Linked DNA regions of Homo sapiens: region 1 is linked to region 2. Evidence: fine-mapped expression QTL. Tissue or cell type: aorta. Region 2 holds a variant in brackets; the other region holds the start of a gene. All regions are shown on one strand. Distances are between the middles of the regions.

What was found. PIP is the estimated chance that this variant, and not a neighbour inherited with it, causes the effect.
Region 1: it holds the start of AP3B2, and the variant in region 2 is the best candidate, but not a certain one, in a credible set for the expression of AP3B2 in aorta (GTEx, PIP 0.53).

What each region holds. Positions count from the first base shown.
Region 1 is chr15:82,707,001-82,712,527 of GRCh38, reverse strand. It overlaps AP3B2 (adaptor related protein complex 3 subunit beta 2), which reads left to right and starts at 2,653. Exons shown (of 27, transcript NM_001278512.2): 1 at 2,653-2,934. The coding sequence starts at 2,822. It also overlaps the pseudogene LOC338963. RefSeq lists silencers at 2,600-2,649, 2,870-3,129.
Region 2 is chr15:83,138,387-83,143,386 of GRCh38, reverse strand. HDGFL3 (HDGF like 3) reads left to right here. Exons shown (of 6, transcript NM_016073.4): 6 at 4,112-5,000. The coding sequence ends at 4,117. Among named protein-coding and RNA genes, the nearest start is that of TM6SF1, 33 kb to the right of the region's middle. The variant A/G (reference allele first, on the strand shown) is at 3,052.

The DNA.
Region 1 (5,527 bases), 430 kb after region 2:
CAGGAATACATTAGCTGCGTGCACTCCAGTGATACATAGCCTCTGTAAACCTGTTTCCTTATCCTGAAAATGGGGACATTGTTCCTATCTTGTGATTGTATTAAGGATCAAATGAGCAGCTGCTCAACAGAGGTTTCTGGAGAGGTCCTTCTCCACACAGACTTGGGAGGAGATGCTTGTCCTAGGTCCAAATCTCATCCAGGTTTCCCGATTTTTTCAGGTCTTCTGCTCAACTCAGGTACCAGCTGACACCCACCCAGTCCCTGGTGTTGCCTTCAGGAGCAGTGGCAAGATGGGAGCTGGTTGGGGAAGGGGATCCTAGCGCAGGGGGGAGGAGGAGAGAATGGAATGGCTGGACTTTGAGATGAGAAGACAGTTGGATGGGGAGGAGGCACCATTTGCTGGAACTGAAGGGTTCTCAGTAGGGGCTCGAGGCAGGATGTATCTGTGATATCTGGACCTCTGGAGTCCCTTAAGCACAAGGAGGCAAGTGTGTGGCAGTGAAGACATTCTGCCTTGGGCCCAAGCCCAAGACAGGTCTCCCTGAGCCCTGGGCAGACCATCCGACCTATGGTCATTGGAAGGACCCACCTCCTCCCTATCCCAGGCCTGTGTAAACGCCAGGAAGGCAGGTCCCTTTCTCCATGCAGGCCCTGACTGGGGCAGTCAGCACCATTAAGTTCTTCCTCTCTGAGGCTTTCCTGGGTCAACACTTCGAGGCTGTGTAGTTGGAGGGCAGGGAGCCTGAGCCAGGAGACGTCTTCCTGTTCAGGCTGATTCCCCCCACCTGACGCTGGTGCGGGGCCCACGTTGGCATATACTGTGGCCATGGAGAGATCATCCACTTTGAGGGTGAGTGCCTCCAGCAGAAACACAGGCCCAAGTCTGCGGAGAGGCTGCCCAGCCAAGCCACGCCCCACCAGTGAGCTGGCTACTCGGGGATAAAGACTGAAGTCCCAGGCTGGGGGTACGTTTCTCTGAAAATGGGGTTTGGGCACTCAGGGTCCCTGAGGTCTCAGGAAATGGGGGTGCGGGATCACAGGGCATAGGACCTAAGCCTGGCTCTGATCCGCACCCCTCTGGCGATCCCCGCAGGCAAGAACTCAGGAGGCTGTGGGCTCCTGGGAAGTTTCTGGGCTCCTGGAAAGGCATCGTATCCAAACAGGGGCAGCGCCCGCTGCTGCGCTCCTGCTGGCGCGTGCTGCGCAGAGTGAGCGAAGCGACGGACGCGGACCCACCATCCTATCACTCCATGCGCAGCAACTGTGTGCACTTTGCACTGTGTCTGCTCGTCCCAGGTCCCAGCCTGGACCCCCGGCAAATAGACGGGAGCTCCAGCAGGTCGGTGAGCGTGGCCCAGCTACCTGCACAGGACCCATCCCACCTCCTGAGCAGACTAGCCAAAGCGCCTTATAAACGCGCAACTGCAAAATCCAGGCCCTTCTCTTCCCACTCCCCACCCAGGCCAGTTTTCTCCAAATTCAAGATCCACTTTTCTCTGGCAGGCACAAAGCCACCGGAACCAAGCGGACCCACCCACTTGTCTAGGTTATCCCAACAGAACCTTCTCATTACCCCAATAGAACCTTACCCCAGTAGAATTACCCCCAATAGAACTTTTCTACTGAGCCAAGCTCCACCTTTCTGGGCCCCACTCCTTCCCAGGTAGGCCCGCCAATTCTGCCCATGGAGACTTCGGGATGCTAGTTACAGACCAAGACTCAGGCCTTAGGAACTCCTCCAGTCCCCATGCCCAGCTAAAAGACTCCAGCCACCTCAACTGATGCCCAACTGGATCCTACCTCTTCCCCCAGCCCAATTCACTACTTTCCATCGGATCCAAGCCTTCCTTCCTTGGGCCTAGGGGTCACTCGGGCTCGGGAGCTGAACTGGAGGGCTCACATGACTCAGGAGCCCTGGTGGTCACACCAGACCCTTCTCTTCCTTTTCAGGTGTCAATGGACGTGGACGTGTCCCCGGATTAAGCATGACCTTGGCCCTCCTGGGTGGACGTGGAGGCTTCAGAAAGATTCATTAAACTACTTTCCAAAGCTTAATTAGATGTTCACCGTCCTCTGTATCCTGTTTCCCATCTCTCTAAGCCCCCAAGGGCTCCTCGGAGCTCCCTGACCTTAATTCCTTAAATTCCGCCACCTCCAGGAAGCTCCTCGGCTTCCTGCTGCCAAGCCAGATTTTGTAGGAAAGGTGGGGCGGGAAAGGGAGCGTCCTTAGGTATCTGAGGCCGGTCCTCGGGTGCGGTGACCCCTTCCCGCTCTAGAACCCCCAGCCTGCGGGCACAGCCTTCTTTCCAGTTCCCGCTTTCCCTCCACGGCGTGGGTGAGCATCCGCGCGTGCGTCTGGGGAGAGCGGAGCCCCAGAGGCCCGTCCCGCCGAGGCCAGGTGGTCGGGGGTGGGGGCAGCTATTCCACATCCCCTGCAAGACGGTCCCAGCGTCCGTCCAGCAGACTCGCCCACCTTTAGATCTGGAGACGAGCCAAGTCGCTTTAAAGGGCAGAAGACGCCCTGAAGAGGGCATTTCCTAGGGATGGGCGGGGCCAGGCCCTGACGCACCGCCCCTGTCGCCTCCTCGCGGACACGCCCTCCGCTCGGCTGGCGCCGGTGCCTTTAAGACCTCAGCGCGCGGCCCTGATTGAGAAATCCGCGCGCAGCCTCCGCCGCTGCACACTGCAGCCTCTGCTGAACCCCTGCCGCGCCGCCGCCTTCGCCAGCCCGGACCGGACCGGCCCGCCTTCCCTTCCTCCGCTCCAGCCGGCCTCCGGCCCCGCAACCTCCTCCTCGGCGAAGTCTCCCTGGCCGCCCCATGTCGGCCGCCCCCGCCTACAGCGAAGACAAGGGCGGCTCCGCTGGCCCCGGGGAGCCCGAGTACGGCCACGACCCCGCGAGCGGCGGCATCTTCTCCTCCGACTACAAGCGGTGAGGGAGCCCGCCAGGAAGCTCGCGGGAGGGTTGGGGCCGGGGACCGGGCGAGGCGCGCGGGCACCATGGACAGCGCCCGGCCCCAGCGCCGGCCCCGCCCCGGCCGCGCCGACCGGAAGCCCGCCCGGCCCCCTCCTGCGGCCTGGAGCCCCGGCCCAGCGCGGGCAGCGCTGGCACCCCGGCTCCAGGGGCCGGCCTAGGACGCGGAGGGGGGCAGATAGGGGCTGGCGGGGGATGGGCCAGCTCAGTTTCGAGAGGAGAAACCCTCCGGTTCCAGGTGTTTCTCCGGTTTGCGGCGTTGCGTTAGGGGTTCCCTTCCTTTTTCGTGCTAGGCGGGTTGGCTTCCCAAAAATGTGGGGGAGGGGTCTGAGTCAGCGAACTTGAGCTTGAGCCTGGGGCCTCTTCAGGAAGGCGGGCCCTGGATGTACTTGCACAGCCTCCCAGCTTGGCCCTGCTGCAAATTCATTTCCCCTCCCTCTGGTCCCCATCTCCATCTGACCCTCACATCCCTGCTCCTGGCATTGCCCCTGTAGTTCAGCTCCACCTTCACACCCTCCCCCACCTTTGATTCGTTCGTTTGTTTCTTCATTTGTTTATTCGTAAATTCTGCAACAAGCATTTATGAAAAGCCAACTGTGTCGAGTCCTGAACTAGTCACGGAATACAACTGTGAACATGAGACCCTTCTTGTCCTCACGATGCTCTAGAGGGGAGCACAGATGAAGAAGCAGTCAGGGACAGTCGAGTGTAATGGGGGCAGTGGGAGCAGGGAGAGGACCTAGTCTCTGGCGCCGGAGAGAAGGAAGACAGGAGCGTGAGGTATGTTCCAGGCAGAGGAAAGGGCTTTCAGGAAGGTTGAGAGCCAGGCCACAATCTGTGTGAGCCACTGGACTGACCAGAAAAGAGGGTGGGGAGGACTCCTGAAGGATTCTAAGCAGGCGACATAATCAGATTTATATTTTAGAAGGACGTCAGGCTGCTGCATTGTGGAGAAGAGATTGGAGGTGGGCCAGATTGAACAAGAGACAAGGGAGGTGGGTCTTGAAGTTCACAGGCCTGGCATGATTGTGGCCTAGACCAGGGGAGAGGCAGAAGATTTGAGGCTGTGGAAGAGGTGGAAGCCTCAGACCTGATGATTAATTGGATATTGGGTGGGGGTTTAGAGGGACAGGGGGAGAAGATGAGGATTTTCACGCACGTCCATGTGAAGAGACCACCAAACAGGCTTTGAACAATAAAGCTTTTTAATCACTTGGGTGCAGGCCAGCTGAGTCCGAAAAAAGAGTCAGCGAAGGGAAATGGGGTGGGACCGTTTTACAGGATTTGGGTAGGTAGTGGAAAATTACAGTCAAAGGGGGTTGTTCTCTGGCGGTGGGGGGACACAAGGTGCTCAGTGGGGGAGCTTTTGAGCCAGGATGAGCCAGGAGAAGGAATTTCACAAGATAATGTCATCAGTTAAGGCAGGCACAGGCCATTTTCACTCTTCAGTTACTTCAGGCCATCTGGATGTATACGTGCAGGTCACAGGGGATATCATGGCTTAGCTTGGGCTCAGAGGCCTGACATTCCTGTCTTCTTTTATTAATAAGAAAAATAACATAAAATAGTGTTGAAGTGTTGGGGCAGCAAACATTTTGGCGGGGGGTGGTATGGAGAGATACTGCTTCTCCATAGCCTTGAAGGGCTGCTTCGAGCGGGATTGGGGTGGCGTGGGAACCTAGAGTGGGAGAGATTAAGCTGAAGGCAGATTCTGTGGTAAGGGATGATATTGTGGGGTTGTTAGAAGAAACATTTGTTGTATAGGATTATTGGTGATGGCCTGGATACGGTTTTGTATGAATTGAAAAACTAAATGGAATAAGAGAAGGAGAAAAACAGGTATTAAAGGACTAAGAATTGGGAGGACCCAGGACATCCAATTAGAGAGTGCCCAAGGAGGTTCAGCATAGCCCTGCCAGCAAAGATTATTTATTTACTTTAAGAGGGAGTTAAGACTGGCAGTTTGGGGATAGCACCAGGAGATATCAGCTGTAATGGTTTGGAGAAACAGTGTAAACCGGCAGTGTAAACAAGAGCAGGGCATGTATGAGTAGTTGAGTATGGTGAATAGGAGTATGACTAGTCAGAAGATAGTAGGGATGACAAGTTTTCTGGGGCACAGTCCAAGTTGGTCTGGTGTCTGGAATGAGACTGGGGCCTAATAAAAAGGAGCATCTATACAGGAGCTTGAATGGGCTGTACCCTGCAGCATTCCGAGGACAGGCCCAAATTCTGAGAAGGGCAAGTGGTAAAAGTATTGTCAGTCCTTTTTAAGTTGGTGGCTGAGCTTGGTGAGGTGTGTTTTTAAAAGACCATTAGTCCGTTCTACCTTTTCTGAAGATTGAGGATGGTAAGGGGTATGAAGGTTTCACTGAATACCAGGAGCCTGAGAAACTGCTTGGGTGATTTGACCAGTAAAGGCTGGTCTGTTATTGGACTATATAGAGGCGGGAAGGCCAAACTGAGGAATTATGTCTGACAGAAGGGAAGAAATGACCGCAGTGGCCTTCTCAGACCCTGTGGGAAAGGCCTCTACCCATCCAGTGAAAGT
Region 2 (5,000 bases):
TCTCGAACTCCAGACCTCAAGTGATTCGCCCGCCTCAACCTCCCAAAGTGCTTCGATTACAGGCGTGAGTCACTGCACCTGGCCCCCTTTAAGGGGCCTGTAATCTCAACACTTTGGGAGGCCAAGGTGGGTGGGTCACCTGAGGTCAGGAGTTCAACACCAGCCTGGCCAACATGGTGAAACCCCATCTCTACAAAAAATACAAAATTAGCTGGGCGTGGTGGCATGTGCCCGTAATCCCAGCTACTCAGGAAGCTGAGGCAGAATTGATTAAACCTGGGAGGCGGAGATTGCAGTGAGCTGAGATTGTGCCACTGTACTCCAGCCTGGGTGACAGAGCAAGACTCCGTCTCAAAAAAAAAAGTTATTAAGGGCCCCAAAGAGCTTTGTTTATATATGTGATCGTTAATGATATTTATTTAATTAGAAATAAAAACAAATTTTAAAAATACTTAATTCATTTAATATAATAAATCCATTACTTAAATAGCATTTTTATGAAAATAACATTTCACAGAAAAGTTTGCAGAAAGACATTTTTACATTTTTGCAAATCTTTTTAATGTCTGATTTGATAGAAGACAACTAGATCCTCATATCTATTTCTGCATTCTCTTTATTGTAATATGTAATTGTGGTTGAAGGTATATGAAGAAAATCTGGTATTATACAGATATTTAATTGAAAAATGGTGATATGAGTATCTTAATCGTCTTGCTTTTTTTTTAAACTTCAGGGAGTACATGTGCAGATTTATTATTAAAGGTTAACTCATGTCACAGGTGTTTGTTGTTACCCTGGGTTCTAAGCCTAGTATCCAATAGTTACTTTTTCTGATCCTCTTCCTCCTCTCCTTTACCCTCCAGTAGGCCCTAGTGTCCATTGTTCCCCTCTTTGTGTCCATGAGTTCTCATTATTTAGCTTCCACTTATAAGCAAGAACACGCGGTATCTGGTTTTCTGTTCCTGTGTTAGTTTGTTAAGGATAATGGCCTCTAGCTCTATGCATGTTCCCACAAAAGACATGCTCTCACTCTTTTTAATGGCTGCATAGTATTCCATGGTATATATGTACCACATTTTCTTTATCCAATCTGTCATTGATGGGCATTTAGGTTGATTCCATTTCTTTACTATTGTATATAGCGAGTGCTGCAGTGAACATTCTCATGCATGTGTCTTTATGGTAGAATGATTTATATTACTTTGGGTATATAAGCAGTAATGGGATTGCTGGGTTGAATGGTAGTTCTATTTTTAGCTCTTTGAGGAATTGCCCTACTGATTTCCACAATGGTTGAACTAATTTACACTCCCACCAACAGCATATAAGCGTTCCCTTTTCTCTGCAACCTTGCCAGCATCTGTTATTTTTTGACTTTTTAGTAATAGCCATTGAGTTGTGTGAAATGGTATGTCACTGCAGTTTTGATTTGCATTTCTCTAATGATCAGCGATACTGAGCTTTTCTTCATATGCCTGTTTGTCTAGCGCTCTGAATAGCTTTCCCCCAGTTAGAAAATATAGGTTTTCTGAATTACTTGGGTCTTCCAAATATTCACTCATTTCAGTACAAAATGTTTTTAATCACATTTTTAATATCACTACCTATCTCATCAGAAAAGTCTTTAAGTATTGGGGCCAAGTTTGGTGGCTCACACCTGTAACCCCAGCACTTTGATAGGCTGAGGCAGGAGGATAGCTTGAGGCCAGGAGTTCAAGGCTGCAGTGAGCTGTGATCACACCGCTACACTTAGCATGGGCACAAGAGCAAGACCCTGTCTCTAAAAAAAAAGTCTTTAAATATTGGAAAACTGTCAGTCATGGAGGATTTGAAATTCTAGTTTTCACTGAACACTCAAATTTTATCATTGGCAAAAAACAGTTGTTTTTCTGCAAGTAATAAGTTACTTATTTGTTATAACGTGCCAAATTGCCCAGTCTGCATAGCCATATTGAATATTATCATTCCTTCATATCAAAATGGTACTCCTTGAAAAGATCCTTACGGCTTCTGTTGTTTCATAGCTTCTGCTTACAGTGTTCTGGGTATCCTTCAGTTTTGCTACCACCCTATAGCCTCTCAGTGTGCCTCACATTTAGATACCTCCAGAGAGAATCCGATTGGATTCTTCAGCCATTATCTAATATAGGGGTGCATGGCAACCAGTGCATAAGGAACCACTTGTGGCTACTTACTCAGAGGAGACTTCAGATCTAGGAGACAGTCAGAGTACCATGTCCAGAATATATACCATGATGAATTAGCAAGATGCAGTTTTCAATACATAGATGCAAAGTGATTATGGTATGAGAATTTTTTAATCTCAGATTTTGTAATTTGCTTTTACAAAGCACCCATTTGACAGCACCTTGTTTAAAGACCACAAAAAGCATGTCCTTAAAACTATAGTCACATTCTTGGTGCTCCCTTCACTTTGTTTGGGGTATTAATACTACTCTGAGGCTGCCATGGGACCACCTGTTCCAAAAATATTCTTTGATGTGGATTGAGTAGTTTTTACTGTGATTATTCTACCAAGATAAACATAGAATTTATTGCCTTTCACAGTAATAATAAGAAAACATTGTTAAAGAAGGTTTCGGCCAGGCACGGTGGCTCACGCCTGTAATCCCAGCACTTTGGGAGGCCGCCGAGCCAGGCAGATCACAAGGTCAGGAGTTTGAGACCAGCCTGACCAACGTGGTGAAATCCCATCTCTACTAAAAATACAAAAATTAGCCGGGCATGGTAGCACACACCTGTAATCCCAGCTACTCAGGAGGCTGAGGCAGGAGAATCACTTGAACCGGGGAGGTGGAGGTTGCAGTGAGCTCACATCACGCCACTGTACTCCAGCCTAGGTGACAGAGCGAGACTCTGTCTCAAAAAAAAAAAAAAAAAACTTTCTTTGGTTGACTAACAATTTTTCATTGTTCTAATGGGTGTCTTCCTCCTTCACAAGGGAGGAAGATCCTCCAAAGTATCTGTGAGTATAATCTTATAACTGGTGTTTTTGTTAAGAAATAATTAGGAGTCACCAGGCACTCC[A/G]TTTTTTAAGTTCACAAATTTCAAACTTTTTTTTTAAAGATTTACTTCCTCATTTTAATAGGGACAGAAGGATAAAAAGTATATTTCTGCCATCTTAGGGGGATGGAAGTTTTGGTAACTCTCTCTCCTTTGAAGGTCCTGGAATCGTTTATTATAATATATACCATTTAGTATACATGTTGGGCTGTCTGAATGAGAACATACCCATCAGTGTGCACATGTGCTTACAAACATGTTCATTCATTTAGTGAAATTAAGAGTGGAAGCAGGCTGTTTTCAGAAAAAATATTTGAGGGCTGAGTTCCCTCTTTCATTCATCCCATGAGGGTATTACTAGGGGGTTTAATATATTTGGGTTAATGATGAGGGGGAAAAAATAGCATCCTTTTGGGGAAATAGAACCAGACACAATTTAAAGTGGGACCCAAATAGAAACATAATTCTTTTATGAAACAAATGTTTTATTTTCTGTTTGTCACACGGATGCCATCTAAATTTTAAAAGAAATCTAGGCTTCCTCTTATTCTTTATGTTTTTTTTAAAAGCAAGAAGTCAGAGACTTTGTACATCATGATTAACTTCTACATTTGTTTGAGCTATGTGTCACAAGTAATTAAGTTATAAATATTCTGAAGATTAATTGGTGCACACTCTAAGTGCTTTTTAAATTTTACACAGCTTACCTTTCTTTCTGAAGAATGTCCTCACAAAGATAGATTATATCAATTTCTCCACTGATGATGTATTCCAGCAATAAACATAGTCCTAGAATTGTAGAATGTGCACTGCTGCACTCTGTCCTAACAGACAGTAGACAAGGTTTATAATTTTTTTCTATGGGACACTAAAAATACCCTAGGATTTCCTTTAACTTTTTGCACTGACAGGTCTAAAGCAAAGCCACAGAAGCTGCTCTTGCTCAGTAAGTATTGTTAATGCTGCAGTGCATATTAAAATTTCAGAAAACCCAATTATGTACTATCTAGGTGTGGATAGCTCTCATTGTTAGTATCCTAAATCATCTAAAGGCTTGTTTTCTTTCTTTTTTTTTTTTTTACAGACCTAACTACCATAATGAATGCTGCATATTAAGAGAAACCACAAGAAGGTTATATGTTTGGTTGTCTAATATTCTTGGATTTGATATGAACCAACACATAGTCCTTGTTGTCATTGACAGAACCCCAGTTTGTATGTACATTATTCATATTCCTCTCTGTTGTGTTTCGGGGGGAAAAGACATTTTAGCCTTTTTTAAAAGTTACTGATTTAATTTCATGTTATTTGGTTGCATGAAGTTGCCCTTAACCACTAAGGATTATCAAGATTTTTGCGCAGACTTATACATGTCTAGGATCCTTTTATCAAGGCAGTTATGATCATCGTTTTCCTGCCTTGACCCCACCATCATCAAACACTCAGTTAAATATAAATTAACATTTTTTAGATGACCACTCAACATAATGCTTAAGAATGGAATTTCCTCTCTGTGACAGAACCCAGGAATTAATTCCTAAATACATAACGTTGGTATATTGAAGACGAAATTAAAATTGTCCTTCAGTTTTGAGGCCATGTGTAAAGTTTAACCATATTGTAAAATATCTATTCCGTATTAGAAATAGCTAGTTGACAGCTTATACTTCTCAAAATTCATATTGTTATGTACACAAACTAAGTTTCTATATGTGAAGTTAGTGAGTCTTTTTGTGTTACTCCAAAATAAAGGCAATGATTTATTTTTTTCCCAGTGCCAATACAATTTTGAGCTAAGCACTCAAGGTGGATACTTTACATTTTAAAGCTGGAATCAGCAACAGCCCTATGGGAAACCAGACAAAGCATTGACTTTTAAATGTAGACTTTTAAAATAAACTGTTTTCTTTTGGAACTACAATTAGAATAGTTAATATTCATCCTTAAACCATTATTATGTGTACATTATTGTT